2 separate regions of the Homo sapiens genome follow, and region 2 is linked to region 1. The links come from fine-mapping of genetic effects on gene expression. Tissue or cell type: thyroid. Region 1 holds a variant in brackets; the other region holds the start of a gene. All regions are shown on one strand. Distances are between the middles of the regions.

Region 1 (2,754 bases):
GAGACTCACTCCTTTTGGCAGGGTTTCCCCAGATAAAGCAAGCAGAGAGTGTGGAGGGGAGTGGAGGATGAGAAGCTGGGAAGAAAGCATCTTAGCCATCCGTGGTGTGTGTGTGTGCGCACACACGCATGTGCATGTGTGTGTGTGCAGGCACACACACAAAATCTGTGAGGGCAAACAGGTTTGCTGGGAGTAGCCAGACTTGAGTAAAGACAGATGGTATAAGTGAGCTGGATGAGGTTGCTCAGCTCTGGGATTTCTCCAGTCTCACTGGGGGCTGGGTACTGTATGTGAAGACTGTCCCATGGGTGGGGGATGCGTACAGAGGCCACCACGGGGCAGTAGCAGCCAGAAGAGAATGAATGGTGTAAAGGGTTGAATAGGGGCCCCCTCAAGAGAGATATGTCCAAGTTCTAAACCCCTGTACCTGTGAATGTGACCTTTTTTGGAAATAGGATCTTTTTCCAAATAAAGATCTTGAGATGAGATCATCCTAGATTTATTGTAAGCCTTAAATCCAGAGACAGGTATCCTTCTAGGAGGACGGAGAGGGAGCTTCAAGACACAGAGACACAGAGGAGAAGGCCATATGAAGATGGAGGCAGAGACTGGAGGCGCCATTGCCAAGCAACACTGCGGATCACCTGCAGCTGCCAGAGGCTTGGAAAGTGCTTGCCACAGGCCCTCCCTCAGAGCCTCCAGCAGGAACCCACCCTGCTGACACCTTGGCTTCAGGCTTCCAGCCTCCACAGCTGTGGTGAAATGAATCACTGTTGTTTTGAGCCACCCAGTTTGTGGCAATTTGTATGGCAGTCCTAGGAAAGCTAACAGGCAGTCCAGGTAAGAATGGGTGGTGAGGCAGAAGGGATCTGGAGGCAGGGGGTGGCAAGGGGGCCCAGCGTGTACCCCAACCTAGACCATTCATCCCTTCCATCACACCAGCCCCTGCCCCTCAACATTTTGCACACTTTGAGCCCTGATCCAGGGATCTTCCCTTTCCCCGGCGACACGGCTCAGCACTGCTTCCCCGGTGGGGCTGCATCTTCTCAGGACCCACGGCTGCACGGTCTCGAGCCACAGTGCCTGGTTTCTCTCTTGCACCACCGTTGGTATCTTCTCCCTGTCCTATCTCTCACAATCTGTGGAAGTGCTTTGTATGCAGTGAGCGCTTAATAAAAGTCACTTTTCTCTCCTCAGAGTCCTCTAACTCTTGCCCCAGCCACTTTCCCTACTCCAGCTGAATTTGTGTCCTAACCTTGTCAGAGACAAGGATAACGTCCCCCATGGCTCCAGTGTGATGGCGTTCCCTCCCCTCCCACACAGCGCCCTGGCCCCACATTCCCCACAGGAGCTTGTGGGGTGATCATTAACCCATGCGCCTCCTGACCCCACTTCCAGTCGTTAATTTGTGCGTAAACTTGGACAAATCGCTGCACCCTCTGCTCCTTAGTTTCCTCTCAGGTAAAATAAGAGGGTTGGAGTAGACACATTCACCTATGCATTCCTCCATTCGCTAGTAAGTTGTTTACTGAGACCGTGCGTCATAACTCTGCCTTCAAGGAGCTTTGGTTCTGTAGGGTTGTTGTTTTGTTTTGTTTTTTTTAAGACGGAGTCTTGCTCTGTCGCCCAGGCTGGAGTGAAGTGGTGTAAGCTTGGCTCACTGCAACCTCCGCCTCCTGGGTTCAAGCGATTCTCGTCTCAGTCTCTTGAGTAGCTG[G/A]GATTACAGGTGTGCGCCACTACGCCCAGCTAATTTTTGTGTTTTTAGTAGAGACAGGGTTTCACCATGTTGGCCAGGCTGGTCTCGAACTCCTGACCTCAGGTGATCTACCCACCTCGGCCTCCTAAAGTGCTGGGATTACAGGCGTGAGCCACTGAGCCCAGCCAAGGTTCTGTGGTTTTAAAGCTGCCGCTCTGGACAATCTGTCCAGATGCAACCCAGGCATTCCTTCCTTCTGTGTACCTTTTAGGAAGCAGATTTTGGCTCAAAATAAGAAAGACCCTTCTACCAGAACGGCCCACAAACGGACAGGCTTCCACAGAAAGGGGTGAGCCCCTGTTCCGGAGGAGACTCTGGGATTGCTTCTAACTCCGGGATCCTGAGAGCCTCCGTAAAGGGTTTATTGAGCAGGAGAACCAATTTAACCCTGTCCACATGAAAATAAACATGGAGATTTACTTCAAACTCAGCAGCTCTGGTGAGAAGGCTCTCACACAGGTCCGGGTTTGACCCACACAGACTCCACGACCATCTGAGGCAACCAGCACACGGCAGACGAGGGAAACAACTCAGGTGTCACAATTGCTTTTATTTTTATCTCCAGTCAGTCACAGACCCCAGGAAGGTGAGGTCAGGGAAGGGAACAGGTGCGGACACTGGGGAACTTGCAGGAGCTAAGGCCAGTGGACAGCAGGAGTGTCGGGGGTGTGGCAGCTGGCCTGGGTCCCTGGAGCTGTGTCTGCCCTCAGGGACTCAGGAGAACGGCTCAGGGAGGGCTTGGGAGGGGGTACACTGTGTCCGAGAGATGCAACCATCGTTCGGCAAAAGAAAACAGCGGTGGCTGATGAGAAGACAGGTCTGGGGAGGTCTGAGGAGAGCTCGGGCCAGATCCTGCCCCCAACCTCCAGCCACATGGGCCCTCGGTGACTCTCCCAAACCAGGCCCTGCGTTTCCTCAAGCAGCCACTGGAGGGCAGCAAAGTGCTTATGCAAAAATCCCACCCCGCCCAGGAGAGCAGCCAGGACACCTGGGACTTG
Region 2 (2,500 bases), 96 kb after region 1:
AAGACAGAGACAAAAAGAGAAATAGGGTTTTGCAAAGACTGACTGACAGAAACAGATTTCGAGGGGAGAGAGATCAAGACCAAGTGAGGGTTTGAAGGAGACTTAGGGGAGGTGGAGGAAGAGAAGGAGAGTCTTAGATCCAGGGTGAGGGGCTTCTAGCAGGAAGAGGGAAGACGCCAAGACCGCGCTTGGGAGGTCAGTGGTGCGTCTCTACCCCCCCTGCTCCCCCACTCCAACTCCCAGAGTCTCAAGGCCTCACGTCACACCCCCGTCCCGTCCCGTCGACAAGGGGAACCCCGGCCTGGGAGAGGGCGCCTCCGGGGATCCGTTGCCTAGTCCAGGTACTGCCCAGCTACCGGGCGTCGAGGATTGCGAAGCGTCGGGGCAGGCTGGCACGGTGCCCACTTTTCCCAAAACGCCAGCCTTCCAAGCCCAGAAGCTCGCCCGGCCCAGGCCGGGAGCGGCCCACGTCGGACGGCCGGACCGCCCTGCAGGACCCAGCCCGGCCGCCCGCCCCCGCCGCCGGCGGTGAGGGAGGTGAGCGGCGCCGACCTGCGGGACGAGCATCACTCCGACCCAGCCGGGGGTGAGGCGGGTCAGGATGCTCCGGTCGCAGGAGGAAAAGGAGGAGCTGGACCAAAAGCCCGAAGAGAAGAAAAGGGGAAGGCCGCGCACGGAGCGCGGTAAAGGCCGGCGGAGCTAGACGCCCCGAGGTCGGAGTGAAGCGCCGGGACCGAGCCCCGTCTCCCAGGGAGTCCGGGGCGCACGGCACCGAGGAGAGCGCGGGAGCCAACCTGGGCGCATCATGCGCAGGGCCCGGGACGCTGGGCCGGTCTACACCGCCGCCTGGGTCACGTGGCCCGGACGGGCCGGCGGCTGCCCCGGCCGGGGGGCGGGGGTCGCGCCGGGGTTGCGCTGGACGACGGAGAGCGGCGGGCCCGCAGCGGCCTGGAGCCTCCCAACCCGCGCGCCGCGCTGGCCCCCGAGCGTAGGAGCCGCCCCCTGCCCCCCCGCGCCGGCCCCGCGCCCGGCCGCCCGCCCCCTATATAGCGCGCCCCAGCAGGGCCCGCGCCAGGCCGCCAGCCTCGGAGTGGGCGCGGGACAGTGCGCGGCGCCCCGCAGCCAGGCCCCCGCCCCCGCCGCATCCACCTCCTCCGCCGCCTGCGACCCAACGGGCGCCCCCCGCCGCGGCAGCTGCCGCCGGGCCCCCGCGGCCACCATGAAGAAGGAGGTGTGCTCCGTGGCCTTCCTCAAGGCCGTGTTCGCAGAGTTCTTGGCCACCCTCATCTTCGTCTTCTTTGGCCTGGGCTCGGCCCTCAAGTGGCCGTCGGCGCTGCCTACCATCCTGCAGATCGCGCTGGCGTTTGGCCTGGCCATAGGCACGCTGGCCCAGGCCCTGGGACCCGTGAGCGGCGGCCACATCAACCCCGCCATCACCCTGGCCCTCTTGGTGGGCAACCAGATCTCGCTGCTCCGGGCTTTCTTCTACGTGGCGGCCCAGCTGGTGGGCGCCATTGCCGGGGCTGGCATCCTCTACGGTGTGGCACCGCTCAATGCCCGGGGCAATCTGGCCGTCAACGCGGTGAGTGCCCTGGGGGGGGGGTGGGAGCCTCGACCCTGGGGTGGGCTCAGGACCAGGCCTCTTACCCCACCTGGAAAAAAGGGGTGCCGCAGAGTGGGCCAGCCCACACCCTTCACCAGGAAGGCAAGAGCCTCCCAAGGCCAGGAAGGCAACTCTCCAGGCTGATATGTGCTCCCTTCCTGCCCACCTCCTCTCCCCCTCCCCTCATGCTGGCCCACCCTGGTCTCTCTCCAATGCCTGCTACCCCTCCTCTCCTGCCAGAAACTTCTGCCTCCTCCTGTCTCACCTTTGAGCTCCACCTTCCTCCTGGGCCCCTCACCTCTCCCATCACCTCAGTGGAGCGGTTGAGTAGAACCACCAGAGAAAAGCGGGCTGTCATCACGGCTTTGGGTGACCCTGGCCTGTCTGTGCTTCATTGTTCTCAGCGCCTCCATGGGGATGGTTGTGTCTGCCACAGCAGGTGTCAAGGGGCTCACATTTAGAAACCGTAGATAGGAACCCCCTAATGTGGGGCCAGTGCAGAGCAGTTTCTGTTGAGTATTGGTTCCCTCTTTCCCCAACCTGTGCTCCTCCCCTCAACCCCGCACCCCTGCCTCCCTCCCACCTCCTGCAGCCCCAGAGTCAGCCCCCAACCCCATGCAAACTGGGTTCATTAATCAAACACAGAGGAGGATTTGCTTGGCCATTGTCAAGCTGTGAGTCAGCCGCACTGGAGAGACGGGTTTAAGGCTGGCACTGGCATGGGGCCAGGCACGGGCAGGAGGCCGGGATGGGGTGTGAGGCAGGCAAACCGGGCAGCTGCCCACAGGATGGAGGGTAAATGCCAGCTTATGGGGGCTGGGGGTTGGGCAGAGCCATTGATAGGCCCGTGTCCAGGAAAAGCTACCCTGACGCTCTGCCCTTTGGCCACAGGCCTGA

Evidence for each region. PIP is the estimated chance that this variant, and not a neighbour inherited with it, causes the effect.
Region 2: AQP5 starts here. The variant in region 1 is fine-mapped to the expression of AQP5 in thyroid (GTEx, PIP above 0.99).

Annotation. Positions count from the first base shown.
Region 1 is chr12:49,864,610-49,867,363 of GRCh38, forward strand. It overlaps FAIM2 (Fas apoptotic inhibitory molecule 2), which reads right to left. Exons shown (of 12, transcript NM_012306.4): 12 at 2,287-2,754. Among named protein-coding and RNA genes, the nearest start is that of BCDIN3D, 23 kb to the left of the region's middle. The variant G/A (reference allele first, on the strand shown) is at 1,718.
Region 2 is chr12:49,960,799-49,963,298 of GRCh38, forward strand. It overlaps AQP5 (aquaporin 5), which reads left to right and starts at 1,074. Exons shown (of 4, transcript NM_001651.4): 1 at 1,074-1,582. The coding sequence starts at 1,220. AQP5-AS1 (AQP5 and AQP2 antisense RNA 2) reads right to left here and starts at 1,985. Exons shown (of 3, transcript NR_110591.1): 1 at 1,869-1,985.